Regions from separate parts of the Homo sapiens genome. Here region 2 is linked to region 1. The links come from fine-mapping of genetic effects on gene expression. A gene starts in region 1. The other region holds a variant in brackets. All regions are shown on one strand. Distances are from middle to middle.

Evidence for each region. PIP is the estimated chance that this variant, and not a neighbour inherited with it, causes the effect.
Region 2: its variant is the best candidate, but not a certain one, in a credible set for the expression of AHSP in whole blood (INTERVAL, PIP 0.77).

The regions. Positions count from the first base shown.
Region 1 is chr16:31,523,940-31,533,222 of GRCh38, forward strand. AHSP (alpha hemoglobin stabilizing protein) reads left to right here and starts at 3,961. Exons shown (of 3, transcript NM_016633.4): 1 at 3,961-4,023; 2 at 4,197-4,275; 3 at 4,519-4,864. The coding sequence starts at 4,201. The coding sequence ends at 4,752.
Region 2 is chr16:31,628,157-31,637,439 of GRCh38, forward strand. No RefSeq gene overlaps it. Among named protein-coding and RNA genes, the nearest start is that of LINC02190, 79 kb to the left of the region's middle. The variant T/C (reference allele first, on the strand shown) is at 5,801.

The DNA.
Region 1 (9,283 bases):
TGGGCATCCTTCCTGGGTGGACTGGGCCCCCTGCAGGGCCTGCTCTCACCTACCCAGGAGCACAGCTGATCTCGGCTGGGTCTCCCTCAGCACACTCAGGATGTGTGGGGCAGGTGTCTGCGAGTCCCCGGGGGACTCAGGTTCCTGGCCAGTCTCACTGCCCCCTGCCCCAGCATTGAGACCCTCATGTGGCTGCAGATGTGGCTGATAGTGCCAATCAAGGGAGCCTCTGTCTTCCCAAACTTAAATTTCCCCTCCCATAACCTATAACTTCAGCCCCCTCCATTTTCTGAGCTAAGCTCCAATTAGTGAAAACAAAGTCAAGTGGGAGTCAGGGGACAGGAAAGTGGCCCAGGGGTGGGGCAGAAGAGGGGGAAGGGACAAGTCTCTCTCGAATGGATCCAGAGTGAGCTCCTCCCTCTTGCGAGTAGCCATGCTGCCAAGACGCTGACCTTCAGATGCGCAAGGCTCATGTCTCCTCCCCAGCCCTGGGACCCTCTGGAGGCTGCAGGTCCTGATTGCTGTGCCAGTCACAGCAGGAACAGGCCCCAAAAACGTCACATCTCCAGGAAATAAGACCAAGGTTCCACCTAACCAGTTCAGCTCTCACCTCCCTCCCAAAATGTTCACAGGGGAAACCATGGGCCAAACTATGTAACATGAAATCTACAACCTTTTTGCCCTGACTCCAACCTGGTACTGCCACGAGCAAGTCAGGGTTTTGCGTTGACTGAGTGGGATTTGGGTCATCAATTCCAATCAGATTTCTGGAGAAGGCTCTTCTTTCCCTGATGATTGAGGTCTTCATTGCAGTCCTCTCGGTGGAAGGAGAGGCCTTCCTGGAAGTCCAAACAGTTCTCTTTTCCTCCCTCTGGCTAATTTCTTGTTCAGCTGAAGCAGAGCCTGCCTCGATGAGGGAGTTCCTATTAGGTTTCTTAATTTTTAAGAGACATCACCAGAAGTGAATTCCTCTGTAAATCAGCAGTGCTTTATTTTTCTGTTGCAGAATGAGTTTGTGATCCTGGTTTTCTACAATTCTTTAGCAAATGTGTTTTTGTAATCTCACGTTCAACCCTTCCTTTATTGATGTATCTAGCATGCTGAAAGGGAATCAGTTTCCCCTGCTATTCTCAAGACACTGGTTGAGGGAGGAGACTTCAATTCTTCACTACATCTCACTAATTTTACTCTGCAATTCATTATAGTCCAGGTAGTTAGATTAGTTCCAACTGTGCCAGGAAATTTTGAGGAATGAACAAAATTAGATTTTTTTTTCCTTTTTTTTTTAAAAGATGGGGTCTCACTATGTTGCCCAGGCTGGTCTTGAACCCTTGGGCTCAGACGATCCTGCCGTCTCTGCCTCTTACAGGCATGAGCCACTGTGCGTGGCTTCAATGTTAGATGTGTTCTTGGCAGCATGGTCTTCTAAGCCATCTGAGGCAGCACCATCTCTTTTGAGTTTCCTGGCATGTACCAGAGACCTTCCTGAAACTTTTCCTTAATGAGCTTTGGAAGGGCATTGGGATCTTGATCTTTCCCATCTGGTAATGAATTATTTTTAAAGAAATATTTAAGAAAAATTATTTAGAAGTGAAAGGATGTAGGAGACAGTCGGCCTGGTGTGATGTGAGAAAGACTGGACCTGGTGGTCATTGCTGGCTTTCAAGCTGGAAAGGGACCAGGAGTGAAAGAATGTGGGTTCTTCTATAGACTAGAAGAGGAAAGAAAAAGAACTCTTTTTCAGAGATTCCAAGGGGAACACAGCCTAGAGGACAACTTAATTTTAGCCTAGTGAGTCTCATTTTAGATTTCTGACCTCTAAGTCTGTAAGATAATAAATTTATTTATTTATTTATTTATTTAGAGACAAGGTCTCACTCTGTCACCCAGGCTGGAGTGCAGTGGCGTGATCTTCGCTCACTGCGGCCTCTTCCTCCTGGGTTCAAGCGATTCTCCTGCCTCAGCCTCCCAAGTAGCTGGGATTACAGGTGCATGCCACCATGTCTGGCTAATTTTTGTATTTTTAGTAGAGAGGGGGTTTCGCCATGTTAGCCAGGATGGTCTCGAACTCCTGACCTCAAGTGATCTGCCTGCCTTGACCTCCCAAAGTGCTGGGATCACAGATGGGAGCCACCGTGCCTGGCCGGTAACACATACTTTCCACCCTATATAAATGAAAACATGTTCACATGGAAACCTGTACACAAATGTTTATAGCAACTCTATTCACACTTGCCCCAAAGTACAAACAATCCAGATGTCCTTCCGTGGCTGAATGAACAAACTACAGTGCATCCATACAATGCAATGTGTCCACTGACACTTGTGACAACTTGGATGGAGCTCAAGAACATCATGCTGACCAAAAAAAGTCAGTCTCAAAGGTTACATACTGTATGATTCCATTTATATGACATCCTGAAAAAGGCTTAACTGTAGTGATGAACAGATAAGTGGTTGCCAGAAGTTATGGGTGAGGGTAGGGGTGGCTACAAAAGGGTAACGTGAAGGAGTGGTTTTTGGGTGACAGAAACATTCTGTATCTTAACTGCGTTTGTAGTTACACAAATCTGTTATAAAATTAATAAACTAGGCCAGATGCGGTAGCTCACACCTGTAATCCCAGCACTTTGGGAGGCCAAGGTGGGTCGATCACTTGAGGTCAGGAGTTCGAGACTAGCCTGGCCAACATGGTGAAACCCCATCTCTACTAAAATACAAAAATTAGCTAGGCGTGGTGATGCACGCCTGTAATCCCAGCTACTTGGGAGGCTGAGGCAGGAGAATCGCCTGAACCTGGGAGGTAAAGTTTGCAGTGAGCTGAGATCGCATCACTGCACTCCAGCCTGGGCCACAGAGGGAGACTCCCTCTCAAAAAAAAAAAATTTAATATACTGTACACCAAAAGGAAGTCAGTTTTGCTGTATATTGATTAAAAAATGCTACAACCAAAAAGGCAAATCAACAAAGCTTTATGAGTGTATAGGCACCTATGAATGTTGGGTTTTGAATGGAAAAAAAAAGTGACAGGAAATATACAATGTTTAATGCTGGTTACTTTGGAGGGGGCAAAAATGATTCAGTTTTTCAGTGTACGTTTTTGTATTGTTTTAATTATTTCAATTAGTATATAGTGATTTTGAAATTTGAGAAACATCTACTGAAAATGGAAAATATCTGGAAAAATATTTAAAAAGAGGAAAAAGAGTATTTCTGCTTTATTGGGTACCTGTTGACAGGGTAGTAAACAAGACAAATCCATCTCCATTCTTTTTTTTCTTTTGAGATGGAGTCTCGCCCTGTCACCCAGGCTGGAGTGCTGTGGTGTGATCTTGGCTCACTGCAACCTCTGCCTCCTGGGTTCAAGCGATTTTCGTGCCTCAGCCTCCCAAGTAGCTGAGACTACAGGTGCCCGCCACCACGCCCGGCTATTTATCTCCATTCTTATGGAGCACAGCGTGGTGGAGTTCAGTCCACACGCTTACAGGTGGCTTATCTGCAAAATGTGTCTAAAAAGAAATTTTATAGGATAAATATTTTGTACATGTTTGAAACAGTGCTTGGCACAAATGAATAAATGTAATGCAAGCTGCTATTAATACATCATCTCCGAATTGGGAGAATCATTGCGATCACATCGTTGTGATTACACAAAAGCCTCTGTCATGTAATAGGGCTCAGTAAACGTCAATTTCCATAGCATTTCGAGCCTGGATACTGAAATATGGGGCAAAAAGCAGGAACATGCCCCTGGTTTGGCTCTTGCCTTCTTGCATTTCCTGGGTTTCCTCATTTATCTTTTTTTTTTTTTTTTTTGGCCTTGTTATCTTTCTACCTTCAGGGAAGCCTCTCCCTTCTTCTCCTCCCTAGAATGACCTATCACCCTCCTTCAGGACCTAGATGCAGGGCGTTTCTATCTTAGGCTGACACTTGACTCCTTGCCTACATCTATAGCTTGGCACAGAGAGATTCACGCACCCTCAAGAGTGTGGGTGAGACATATACAGCCTGTTAGACCTGAAGGTGAGCCCAACCTGGGAAAATCGTGACCTCAGAGCAGGGCAGGATGTGAAAGGTTTTGGAAAGGAGATAGCCCTGCAGGGCAGGAGGGATTTTTAAGGGGAGGAAGTGGGTTGGGGGAAATACCCAGTGAGGAGGGAAACAGATATGTAAATTCTACCCTTTTCTCTACCCAGGCAGATGGCTCTTCTTAAGGCCAATAAGGATCTCATTTCCGCAGGATTGAAGGAGTTCAGCGTTCTGCTGAATCAGCAGGTGAGTCCAAGCTTTCCATTTCAAAGGACTGGCCTGGAGACTGGGGGGTGCCGGGGAAGTGGAGGAAGAGGATAATTGGAGCTGGTGAAGTAATGGTGGAGTTGATGGAAACAACGAGAGACACGGGATACAATGCAGAGGAAAGAGAATGTGAGAGTTGGTGCTGTGGCACTATTCTAGTATTCCCGAATCCCATTGCTGACCACATTCTCCCTTGCCAACTGCCTCTCCGCAACCCCCCAGGTCTTCAATGATCCTCTCGTCTCTGAAGAAGACATGGTGACTGTGGTGGAGGACTGGATGAACTTCTACATCAACTATTACAGGCAGCAGGTGACAGGGGAGCCCCAAGAGCGAGACAAGGCTCTGCAGGAGCTTCGGCAAGAGCTGAACACTCTGGCCAACCCTTTCCTGGCCAAGTACAGGGACTTCCTGAAGTCTCATGAGCTCCCGAGTCACCCACCGCCCTCCTCCTAGCTCAGGGACCCAGCCCCTCCTCTCTGAGAAACTCTGACCTTCATGTCCTTAGGCTGTGCTCCTGCCACTCTACCCTGACACCTCAATAAAGACCAGTGCTGGTTTTGTTGGACTTCCTGGCTTCTCTTTCATGGTCTGTCCTGACATGTGGAGGCACTCGGTCCCTTTCCTTCCGCCCTCCTTCTTAGATATGCTCTTGGAAGCTTAATTCCTTACAGCAGAGGTTAGCAGCCTTGAGTGACCACCGGGCAGCGATTCTAAACTAAAACAGGCTGAACGAGGGCCAGGAAGGCGGGACTAGAGAGAGTGCAGAGCTGCAGGGGAGGGGGTGGCAGAAACAAGAAAGGGGGATAGAAGTCCTCCAGACATTGTCCTGTGACCTGCTTGTCGAGGAGGAAACTGTTGGAAGTCTCCCAGTCTTGTTCATCCTGCGCCAGGTCCACCGCCTCGACTTTTCAATCCCCTGTCCTTAGCCCCAGCTCAAACTACATTCTAGGATCTTCGGACTCTGACTACCGCAAAATACCTCCCCGGAGCCCCAGGCATCGCAGGAATTTAGAGTTGGAAGGGATCCTGGGAACCCTTTAGCGCGCCCCTTATATTTCAGGAGGGGAAGCCACTTCCCTTTGGCTCCAACATCCCTGGGCGCAGATGCCAGGATTGGGAAGCAGAGGAATCCGCCTTCCCCCCACCCCAAGCTTCTCAGATCAATTCCCGGTCTAGCTCCCTTTCTCCCAGACCTCCAGACTCGAAGCCTCTATTTTAGGGCTCTGGGCGGAACCAGGGACGGGCCAGACTCAAGAGCTTTTTAAAAACGAAATGAAGGTGTTAGACCCGCGGCGCAGTCTCCAGGAAAAGCCTCCACGCGCAGAGGGGAGGGCCCTCCGGGGGAGGGTGCGCGGGGCGGGGGCGCGCGGGGGGAGGGGGTTCCCGGGGTGCTGAGCGGGGGCGGGGGTGCGCGGGGCGGGGGCGCGGCTAGGAGGCGCCGCACAGCAATCAGACGCGGCTCAGGGTGCGCGCGGGGAGCTGGAGGGCGCAGTTCTGGACCTTTTCGGTGTTCTCTCTAACGCGGGAAAAGTTTGGGGCCCAGAGGGATTGCTCCTCGTTCCAACCTCCAGCAAGCTTTCCTCTGGGACTTGTGAACCGACTGTTGTTTTGTAGGTCTCTGCAGCCTGGATCAGGGTGGAAAGGGAACCCGCTCAGTGTCCCCAGCGGTGCTTCCAACCCTGGGGTGTGGTCGGCCCTAGATCCAGCTTGGGAGAGTGGCGCCTCCCAGGGAAGCAGGCGGCGAGCTCCTCTGGGTTGGGGTCGGTGGTCCAGGCAGAGTCTGGGGCCTTCTCCACGGCACCTCTCAGGAAATCTCAGTCTGTGAGTGAGGACCAGAGCCCGCTCAGGCGGGACAGTAGTCGGCAGCCTCACCTTTGCAAGAGAGACCTGGCCTGGTGTGTGTGGGTGGAGGAAAGTGAGTGGGGGACGCTAGGAGAGCGCACAGCACAACGCTCCGGTGCCTTATGCAGAATGGCGAAATGTTTGCATGTAACCCACGCACATCTCTTCGTGGACTTCACATCATGGCTAGATTACTTACAATACCGACTACAACGTCAATGCTGTGCAAATAGTTGTTACACTGTATTATTTAGGGAGTAACGACAAGAAAAAAAGCCTGTACATGTTCAGTACAGAGGCAACCATCCATTTTTCTCCCCAAATATTTTCCATCCTTGGTTGGTTGAATCCACAGATGCGGAACCCACAGATACGGAGGGACCACTGTATTTGTCTTTCAGCTTAGCTGAAAAGAATGTTAGAAGCCGCTTTGGCTCAATTCATGAAGAGGAATTTTCCATACCTTTATAACTATCCAGCTATGGGAGCTGCTGAGCTAAGCACTTCTCAGGTGCTCAAAGGAAAATGACCAATTACAGGTGTAAGGTAGAAAAGATTCTCACTGGGAAGTTCAACATTGAAACTCCATTCCGACCATTCCATAAGCTTGTGCAATTGAGAAGCTGCAAAAAATATTTTTAAGACAGAAAAATCTGTTACCTGCACTTTCTGCTCTCATATTACTATCAACGAAGTGACTGGTTATAAATCTACAAGAAGTAAAATTGGGGATATTTTGATTTTTCAGAGACGGTGATATGAACCTGATGGTTCATAATAATAAAAATAAAATAACTAAAGCAGAGAGTGCCCCAAATCCATTACTGTTCCTGAAGGAAAATAAATTAGAATTAGTAAGAATAACCTTCTTTTGCTTAGCAGTATCTGAATTAATACTAGAAATAAGATTGTAAATAAATGGTAAAACATTATAGCCATAACCCTGCCCTTATCCTCACCCTCATATTGAACCTGACCTAGAGCTGACCCTGAACTTGAGCCTCACCTCTAGCTTCATCTTGCCCCTGATCATAATGGACACCTTGCCCTCACAATGACCCTGACTCTCACACTGACATTGCCTCTCATTCTCATTCTTATACTGATCCTGATGCTGAATTGGACCCTAAACTTTACCTGATCCTAATTTTCACCCTGTCTCTGACCCTCAACCTGAATCCTACCCTGACCCTTACCCTGAAATTGACCTTCACTGACCCTTCCCTTAGCATGATGTTGACTCTGACCCTCACTATGACCCTGACCCTTGATCCTCAACTTGACCTAGACAGTGATCATAATTATGACTTTTTTTTTTTTTAAAGAGGCAGGGTCTTGCTCTGTCACCCAGGCTGTAGTGCAGTGGTGCCAGCATGGCTCACAGCAACTTTGACCTCCAGAGCTCAAGCGATCCTCCTACCTCAGCTTCCTGAGTAGCTGGGACCACAGGTGCATGCCACTATGCCTGGCTATTTTTTTTTGTATTTTTTGTAGAGATGGGGTCTCACTATGTTGTCCATGCTGGTCTTGAACCCCTGGCCTCAAGCAAGCCTCCCACCTTAGCCTCCCAAAGCACTGGGACTACAGGTGTGAGCCACTGCACCTGGCCTTTAACCATGACTCTTGACCCTGAAGCATACACTCTCACCTTGACTCTGACCTTGCTCTCGTTCTGACACCACCCCCTCCTTCACACCTGAGCCTTACCCTGGTGCTCACTCTCACCTTGCATCTGACTGTGACACTCACCAGACCCTGATCCTGACTGTCACTTACACACTCTATCTCGTTCTCACCCTGACCCTGATTCTGTACTTGACCCGGACCCTCACTTTTGCCTTCAGTTTTAGCATCACCCTTAATCCCAACCGAACATTGAAGCTAACCCTACAGTGGCACTCAACTTGACCCTCCCCTGGCCTGGAAATCTTAATGTCACCATAACCCTCATCATGACCATAAATCTGACCCTTACCTGACCCTGACTCTGCTGCTTACTTTCCACTGACCCTGACTTGACCCTTATGGTCTCCTTGATCCTGACCTCACCCTGACTCTATAAGGACCCTTATCCATACCTTCACCATGTCCTTGAACCTGCTGTGAATCTGAAACTTATGCTGAGCCTGAACTACACACTCAGCCTGACCCTGGCACTAAGTCTTTCTCACTCTGTGATGAACTCTGACCCTGAAACTGACTCTGACCCTCGCCCTGACCCAGGCTTTGAATGTTTGCCTCACACTCCTTATCCTCACTCTGACACTGACCCCCACTCTGATCCTCACGATGACTCTCAGCTGGACTTTGACCCTGGAACATGACCCTTACCCTCATCAAGACTCAGCAATTTGCTCACACCTGTAGTCCTGGCACTTTGGGAGGCTGAGTTGAGAGGATCACTTGAGGTCAGGCATTTGAGACTAGCCTGGGCAACACAGCAAGACACCCCACCCCCATCTGTACAACAAAATATTCACATTGCATTACAAATGTCTGCTACATCATTGTAGTAAATTCTTTCTTTTTACTCCTATTAGTAGCTGCAACACGTTCTTATGATAAAACTCTGTGCCCAATTCTGACCACTGGAACAAGCTGGACACATCTGGCTTCTTTTTTTTTTTTTTTTTTTTTTTTTTGAGACGGAGTCTTGCTCTGTCATCTAGGCTGGAGTGCAGTGGTGCGACCTCGGCTCACTGCAGCCTCCGCCTCCCAGGTTCAAGCGATTCTCCTGCCTCAGCATCCCAAGTAGCTGGGATTACAGGCACCCACCGCCATGCCTGTCTAATTTTGGTATTTTTAGTAGAGACAAGAGTTTCACCATGTTGGCCAGGCTGGTCTCAAACTCCTGACTTCAGGTGATCCGCCTGCCTCAGCCTCCCAAAGTGTTGGGATTACAGGCATAAGCCACCAAGCCCAGCCACTTCTGGCTTCTTACCAGGGCTGTGACTTGGTGAGACAAAAGAGGAATCAGTGGGAAATTTAAGGAAGCCCTCTCTCGCAGGCTCGTGAAAGTGCAGGGACAGCTCCTGAGAGTGAGGCCTCCTTAAATGTTGTGTCCTGCATGCCTCACTTGCCTTACTCTCCTCTAGGGCCTGCTTCTTGTAGCTCCTAAAGGGTTTTGCCTTCTGGATATTTT
Region 2 (9,283 bases), 100 kb after region 1:
TTGCTCATGCTTGTAATCCCAGCGCTTTGGGAGGCCATGGTAGGTAAATCACCTGAGCTCAGGAGTGGGAGACCAGCCTGGGCAACATGGTGAAACCCCTCTCTCTAAAAAATACAAAAATTAGCTGAGCACGGTGGTGTGCACCTGTAGTTCCAACTACTTGGGAGGTGGGAGAATCACCTGAGCCTGGGAGGTTGAGGCTGCAGTGAGTCATGATCACGCCACTGCACTTTGGCCTGGACATCGGAGTGAGACCTTGTTTCAAATAAATAAATAAATGAAAGAAAGAAAGAAAGATGAGTCATTGCAACTGACAACACACAAATACAAAGAATAATAACAGACTACTATGAACAATTATATGACAACAAATTGGATAACTTAGAAATAGATTCTTAGAAATGAATGACTCACCAAGATTAAATCACAAAAAACAGAAATACTGAACAGACCAATAATAAGAAAGGAGATTGAAGCAGTAATAAAAAATCCAATGAGAAAAAGCCCATGACCAAATGACTTCATGGGTGAATTGCATCACACATTTAAAGATGAATTAATGTCCATCCTTCTCAAATTCTTCCAAAAAATTGAAGGGAAAAAACACTGCCCCTTAGTTTGCATGTAATGAAAAGTGGGTATATAAGTACATGACTGCAGAACTGCTCCTCTCAGCACACTGCCTACAGGGGAGCCTCGCTCCACAGGAGCACTCATAGAGCTGCAACACTGCCAGCTCAATAAAGCTGTTTTCTTCTACCACTATCTTGCACTTGAATTCTTCCTGAGTGAAGCCGTGAACCTTCCCAGGATAAGCCCCAATTTGGCGGCTCACAAGCCCTGCAACAAGAGCAATTAGGTAAGAAAAAGAAATCAAAGGCACTCACATTGGCAATGAAGAATTAAAATTCTATCTGCTTGCAGATTAGGTGATTTTATATATAGAAAACCCTGAAGAGTATACACAAAGAGTTAGAGCTAATAAACTCATTCAGTAAAGCTGAGGTCACAAAATTAACATACAAAAATTAGTTGCATTTCTATATACTAACAATAAATGATCTGAGAAAAAAAGTTAAGCAAACAATCCAATTTATAATAGCATCAAAAAGTATAAAATTCTTATGATTCCATTTAACAAAGGAGGTGAAAGATCTGCTGAGTAAAATCTATAAGACATTGATGGGCCAGGCACAGTGGCTCACGTCTGTAATCCCAGCACTTTGGGAGGCCGAGGCAGGCAGATCACGAGGTCAGGAGATCAAGACCATCCTGGCTAACACGGTGAAACCCTGTCTCTACTAAAAATACAAAAAATTAGCTGGGCGTGGTGGCGGGTGCCTGTAGTCCCAGCTACTCGGGAGGCTGAGGCAGAAGAATGGCTTGAACCTGGGAGGCAGAAGTTGCAGTGAGCCAAGATTGCACCACTGCAGTCCAGCCTGGGTGACAGAGCAAGACTCCATTTCAAAAAAAAAAAAAAAAGACATAGACAAATGTCATTGAAAAAGACACAAATAAATGTAAAGATATCCCTTGTTCATGGACTGGAAAAATTAATACTGATGAAATGTCCACACTACACAAAGTGATCTACAGATACAATGTAATCCCTGTTAAAATTCCAATATCAGTTTTCACAGAAATAAAAATGAATTCTAAAATTTATTTTATTTTTTTTTAATTTTTTAATTTTTAATTTTTTTATTTTTTAAATTTTTTAAATTATACTTTAAGTTTTAGGGTACATGTGCACAATGTGCAGGTTAGTTATGTATGTATACATGTGCCATGCTGGTGTGCTGCACCCATTAACTTGTCATGTAGCATTAGGTATATCTCCTAATGCTATCCCTCCCCCCCCTACCCCCACCCCACAACAGTTCCCAGAGTGTGATGTTCCCCTTCCTGTGTCCATGTGTTCTCATCATTCAATTCCCACCTATGAGTGAGAATATGCGGTGTTTGGTTTTTTGTTCTTGCGATAGTTTACTGAGAATGATGATTTCCAATTTCATCCATGTCCCTACAAAGGACATGAACTCATCCTTTTTTATGGCTGCATAGTATTCCATGGTGTATATGTGCCACATTTTCTTAATCCAGTCTATCATTGTTGGACATTTGGGTTGGTTCCAAGTCTTTGCTATTGTGAATACTGCCACAATAAACATATGTGTGCATGTGTCTTTATAGCAGCATGATTTATAGTCCTTTGGGTATATACCCAGTAATGGGATGGCTGGGTCAAATGGTATTTCTAGTTCTAGATCCCTGAGGAATCGCCACACTGACTTCCCCAAGGGTTGAACTAGTTTACAGTCCCACCAACAGTGTAAAAGTGTTCCTATTTCTCCACATCCTCTCCAGCACCTGTTGTTTCCTGACTTTTTAATGATTGCCATTCTAACTGGTGTGAGATGGTATCTCATTGTGGTTTTGATTTGCATTTCTCTGATGGCCAGTGATGGTGAACATTTTTTCATGTGCTTTTGGCTGCATAAATGCCTTCTTTTGAGAAGTGTCTGTTCATGTCCTTTGCCCATTTTTTGATGGGTTTGTTTTTTTCTTGTAAATTTGTTTGAGTTCATTGTAGATTCTGGATATTAGCCCTTTGTCAGATGAGCAGGTTGCAAAAATTTTCTCCCATTTTGTAGGTTGCCTGTTCACTCTGCTGGTAGTTTCTTTTGCTGTGCAGAAGCTCTTTAGTTTAATTAGATCCCATTTGTCAATTTTGGCTTTTGTTGCCATTGCTTTTGGTGTTTTAGACATGAAGTCCTTGCCCATGCCTATGTCCTGAATGGTAATGCCTAGGTTTTCTTCTAGGGTTTTTATGGTTTTAGGTCTAACATTTAAGTCTTTAATCCATCTTGAATTAATTTTTGTATAAGGTGTAAGGAAAGGGATCCAGTTTCAGCTTTCTACATATGGCTAGCCAGTTTTCCCAGCAACATTTATTGAATAGGGAATCCTTTCCCCATTGCTTGTTTTTGTCAGGTTTGTCAAAGATCAGATAGTTGTAGATATGTGGCATTATTTCTGAGGGCTCTGTTCTGTTCCATTGATCTATATCTCTGTTTTGGTACCAGTACCATGCTGTTTTGGTTACTGTAGGCTTGTAGTAAGTATAGTTTGAAGTCAGATAGCTTGATGCCTCCAGCTTTGTTCTTTTGGTTTAGGATTGACTTGGTGATGCGGGCTCTTTTTTGGTTCCATATGAACTTTAAAGTAGTTTTTTCCAATTCTGTGAAGAAAGTCATTGGCAGCTTGATGGGGATGGCATTGAATCTATAAATTACCTTAGGCAGTATGGCCATTTTCACGATATTGATTCTTCCTACCCATGAGCATGGAATGTTCTTCCATTTGTTTGTATCCTCTTTTATTTCATTGAGCAGTGGTTTGTAGTTCTCCTTGAAGAGGTCCTTCACATCCCTTGTAAGTTGGATTCCTAGGTATTTTATTCTCTTCGAAGCAATTGTGAATGGGAGTTCACTCATGATTTGGCTCTCTGTCTGTTATTGGTGTATAAGAATGCTTGTGATTTTTGTACATTGATTTTGTATCCTGAGACTTTGCTGAAGTTGCTTATCAGCTTAAGGAGATTTTGGGCTGAGACAATGGGGTTTTCTAAATATACAATCATGTCGTCTGCAAACAGGGACAATTTGACTTCCTCTTTTCCTAATTGAATACCCTTTATTTCCTTCTCCTGCCTAATTGCCCTGGCCAGAACTTCCAACACTATGTTGAATAGGAGTGGTGAGAGAGGGCATCCCTGTCTTGTGCCAGTTTTCAAAGGGAATGTTTTCAGTTTTTGCCCATTCAGCATGATATTGGCTGTGGGTTTGTCATAGATAGCTCTTATTATTTTGAGATACATCCCATCAATACCTAATTTATTGAGAGTTTTTAGCATGAAGGGTTGTTGAATTTTGTCAAAGGCCTTTTCTGCATCTATTGAGATAATCATGTGGTTTTTGTCTTTGGTTCTGTTTATATGCTGGATTACATTTATTGATTTGCATATATTGAACCAGCCTTGCATCCCAGGGATGAAGCCCACTTGATCATGGTGGATAAGCTTTTTGATGTACTGCTGGATTCGTTTTGCCAGTATTTTACTGAGGATTTTTGCATCAATGTTCATAAAGGATATTGGTCTAAAATTCTCTTTTTTGGTTGTGTCTCTGCCCGGCTTTGGTATCAGGATGATGCTGGCTTCATAAAATGAGTTAGGGAGGATTCCCTCTTTTTCTATTGATTGGAATAGTTTCAGAAGCAATGGTACCAGTTCCCCCTTGTACCTCTGGTAGAATTTGGCTGTGAATCCATCTGGTCCTGGACTCTTGTTGGTTGGTAAGCTATTGATTATTGCCACAATTTCAGAGCCTGTTATTGGTCTATTCAGAGAGTCAACTTCTTCCTGGTTTAGTCTTGGGAGGGTGTATGTGTCCAGGAATTTATCCATTTCTTCTAGATTTTCTAGTTTATTTGCGTAGAGGTGTTTGTAGTATTCTCTGATGGTAGTTTGTGTTTCTGTGGGATTGGTGGTGATATCCCCTTTATCATTTTTTATTGCATCTATTTGATTCTTCTCTCTTTTCTTCTTTATTAGTCTTGCTAATGGTCTATCAATTTTGTTGATCTTTCCAAAAATCCAGCTCTTGGATTCATTAATTTTTTGAAGGGTTTTCTGTGTCTCTATTTCCTTCAGTTCTGCTCTGATTTTAGTTATTTCTTGCCTTCTGCTAGCTTTCGAATGTGTTTGCTCTTGCTTTTCTAGTTCTTTTAATTGTGATGTTAGGGTGTCAATTTTGGATCTTTCCTGCTTTCTCTTGTGGGCATTTAATGCTATAAATTTCCCTCTACACAGTGCTTTGAATGCGTCCCAGAGATTCTGGTATGTTGTGTCTTTGTTCTCGTTGGTTTCAAAGAACATCTTTATTTCTGCCTTCATTTCGTTATGTATCCAGTAGTCATTCAGGAGTAGATTGTTCGGTTTCCATGTAGTTGAGCGGTTTTGAGAGAGTTTCTTAATCCTGAGTTCTAGTTTGATTGCACTGTGGTCTGAGAGACAGTTTGTTATAATTTCCAATCTTTTACATTTGCTGAGGAGAGCTTTACTTCCAATTATGTGGTCAATTTTGGAATAGGTGTGGTGTGGTGCTGAAAAAAATGTATATTATGCTGATTTCGGGTGGAGTGTTCTGTAGACATCTATTAGGTCTGCTTGGTGCAGAGCTGAGTTCACTTCCTGGGTATCCTTATTAACTTTCTGTCTTGTTGATCTGTCTAATGTTGACAGTGGGGTGTTAAAGTCTCCCATTATTATTGTGTGGGAGTCTAAGTCTCTTTGTAGGTCACTAAGCACTTGCTTTATGAATCTGGGTGCTCCTGTATTGGGTGCATATATATTTAGGATAGTTAGCTCTTCTTGTTGAATTGATCCCTTTACCATTATGTAATGGCCTTCTTTGTCTGTTTTGATCTTTGTTGGTTTAAAGTCTGTTTTATCAGAGACTAGGATTGCAACCCCTGCCTTTTTTTGTTTTCCATTTGCTTGGTAGATCTTCCTTCATCCTTTTATTTTGAGCCTATGTGTGTCTCTGCACATGAGATGGGTTTCCTGAATACAGCACACTGATGGGTCTTGACTCCTTATCCAATTTGCCAGTCTGTGTCTTTTAATTGGAGCATTTAGTCCATTTACATTTAAAGTTAATATTGTTATGTGTGAATTTGATCCTGTCATTATGATGTTAGCTGGTTATTTTGCTCGTTAGTTGATGCAGTTTTTTCC[T/C]AGCCTCGATGGTCTTTACATTTTGGCATGATTTTGCAGTGGCTGGTACCAGTTGTTCCTTTCCATGTTTAGTGCTTCCTTCAGGAGCTCTTTTAGGGCAGGCCTGGTGGTGACAAAATCTCTCAGCATTTGCTTGTCTGTAAAGGATTTTATTTCTCCTTCACTTATGAAGCTTAGTTTGGCTGGATATGAAATTCTGGGTTGAAAATTCTTTTCTTTAAGAATGTTGAATATTGGCCCCCACTCTCTTCTGGCTTGTAGAGTTTCTGCCGAGAGATCCGCTGTTAGTCTGATGGGCTTCCCTTTGTGGGTAACCCGACCTTTCTCTCTGGCTGCCCTTAACATATTTTCCTTCATTTCAACTTTGGTGAATCTGACAATTATGTGTCTTGGAGTTGCTTTTCTCGAGGAGTATCTTTGTGGCATTCTCTGTATTTCCTGAATCTGAATGTTGGCCTGCCTTGCTAGATTGGGGAAGTTCTCCTGGATAATATCCTACAGAGTGTTTTCCAACTTGCTTCCATTCTCCCTGTCACTTTCAGGTACACCAATCAGATGTAGATTTGGTCTTTTCACATAGTCCCATATTTCTTGGAGGCTTTGTTCATTTCTTTTTATTCTTTTTTCTCTAAACTTCCCTTCTCTCTTCATTTCATTCATTTCATCTTCCATCACTGATACCCTTTCTTCCAGTTGATCACATTGGCTCCTGAGGCTTCTGCATTCTTCACGTAGTTCTCGAGCCTTGGCTTTCAGCTCCATCAGCTCCTTTAAGCACTTCTCTGTATTGGTTATTCTAGTTATACATTTGTCTAAATTTTTTTCAAAGTTTTCAACTTCTTTGCCTTTGGTTTGAATTTCCTCCTGTAGCTCGGAGTAGTCTGATGGTCTGAAGACTTCTTCTCTCAACTCATCAAAATCATTCTCCATCCAGCTTTGTTCCGTTGCTGGTGAGGAGCTGCGTTCCTTTGGAGGAGGAGAGGTGCTCTGCTTTTTAGAGTTTCCAGTTTTGCTGCTCTGTTTTTTCCCCATCTTTGTGGTTTTATCTACTTTTGGTCTTTGATCATGGTGATGTACAGATGGGTTTTTGGTGTGGATGTCCTTTCTGTTTGTTAGTTTTCCTTCTAACAGACAGGACCCTCAGCTGCAGGTCTGTTGGAGTTTGCTAGAGGTCCACTCCAGACCCTGTTTGCTTGGGTACCAGCAGCGGTGCCTGAAGAACAGCGGATTTTCGTGAACCGCGAATGCTGCTGTCTGATCGTTCCTCTGGAAGTTTTGTCTCAGAGGAGTACCCGGCCGTGTGAGGTGTCAGTCTGCCCCTACTGGGGGGTGCCTCCCAGTTAGGCTGCTCGGGGGTCAGGGGTCAGGGACCCACTTGAGGAGGCAGTCTGCCCGTTCTCAGATCTCCAGCTGCGTGCTGGGAGAACCACTGCTCTCTTCAAAGCTGTCAGACAGGGACATTTAAGTCTGCAGAGGTTACTGCTGTCTTTTTGTTTGTCTGTGTTCTGCCCCCAGAGGTGGAGCCTACAGAGGCAGGCAGGCATCCTTGAGCTATGGGGGGCTCCACCCAGTTCGAGCTTCCTGGCTGCTTTGTTTACCTAAGCAAGCCTGGGCAATGGTGGGCACCACTCCCCCAGCCTCGCTGCCACCTTGCAGTTTGATCTCAGACTGCTATGCTAGCAATCAGCGAGACTCAGTGGGCGTAGGACCCTCTGAGCCAGGTGTGGGATATAATCTCCTGGTGCGCCGTTTTTTAAGCCCATCGGAAAAGCGCAGTATTGGGGTGGGAGTGACCTGATTTTCCAGGTGCTGTCTGTCACCCCTTTCTTTGACTAGGAAAGGGAACTCCCTGACCCCTTGCGCTTCCTGAGTGAGGCAATGCCTCGCCCTGCTTTGGCTCCCGCACGGTACGCTGCACTCACTGTCTTGCGCCCACTGTCTGGCACTCCCTAGTGAGATGAACCCAGTACCTCAGATGGAAATGCAGAAATCACCTGTCTTCTGTGTTGCTCACGCTGGGAGCTGTAGACCGGAGCTGTTCCTATTCAGCCATCTTGGCTCCAGAACCAATATGTTTTCTTTTTTTGTTTTTGTTTTTTTTTTCTGAGATGGAGTCTCGCTCTGTTGCCCAGGCTGGAGTGCAATGGCATAATCTCGGCTCAGTGCAACCTCTACCTCCTGGGTTCAAGTATTTCTCCTGCCTCAGCCTCCTGAGTAGCTGGGATTACAGGCACGCACCACCATGCCTGGCTAATTTTTGTATTTTTAGTAGAAATGGGGTTTCACCATGTTGGTCAGGCTGGTCTCAAATTCCTGACCTTGTGATCCACCCGTCTTGACCTCCCAAAGTGTTGGGATTACAGGCATGAGCCACCACACCCAACCCATAATATTTAATATTTATTGATATTATAACATGCATACAGAATTGCATGCATGCACAAAGCATTTATGTAAAGGTCCATGTATAATTAGAAAGTAAATACCAACCGGGCACGTTGACTCATGCCTGTCATCCCAGCACTTTGGGAGGCTGAGGCAGGTGGATCATCTGACTTCTGGAGTTTGAGACCAGCCTGGACAATATGGTGAAACCCTGTCTTTACTAAAAGTACAAAATTAGCTGGGCGCATGCCTGTAGTCCCAGCTACTCAGGAGGCTGAGACAGGAGAATCACGTGATCCCAGGAGGCGGAAGTTGCAGTGAGCTGAGCTTGCACCACTGCACTCCAGCCTGGGCGATAGAGTGAGACTCCGTTTCAAAGAAAAAGAAAGAAGAAAAGAAAGAAAGAAGAAATGGAAAGGAAGGAAGAATGGAAGGAAGAAAGAGGGAGGGAAGAGACAAATCTTCCTGACAGAGGAATTTCAACAATTAAGTTGAAATATAGTTTAGTGTTTGTGTAGAGATTTTGATTCTTGCAATACCCCGTATCTTTCCCAAAGTTACTTGGGTCAGGACTTTTCATCTCCAACCCCGGTGAAATAGTCAGTATGTCATACATTTGGAATATAGCTTAATTCATCTGTCATTGTCTATATTCTATCTGAATTTCTTCAGCAACTTGGTCTATTAAAAAAAATTTGTTTTGGGATGGAGTTTTGCTCTGTTGCCCAGGCTGGAGTGCAATGGCACAATCTCAGCTCAGTGCAACCTCCACCTCCGGGGTTCAAGCAATTCTCCTGCTTCAGCCTCCCAAGTAGCTTACAGGGATTACAGGTGCCCGCCACCATGCCCAGCTAATTTTTGTATTTCAGAGATGGAGTTTCACCATGTTGTCCAGGCTGGTCTTGAACTCCTGACCTCAGGTGTACCACCCACCTCGGCCTCTCAAAGTGCTGGGATTACAGGCATGAGCCACTGCACCCGGCCTGATTTTTTAAAAATTTTATACAGAAAAATTTGTTCTTTGTGGTGTACAGTTCAACAGGTTTTAACAATGGTCTAGAGTCATCTTTCACCACTGGAGTACCACACAGAACTTTT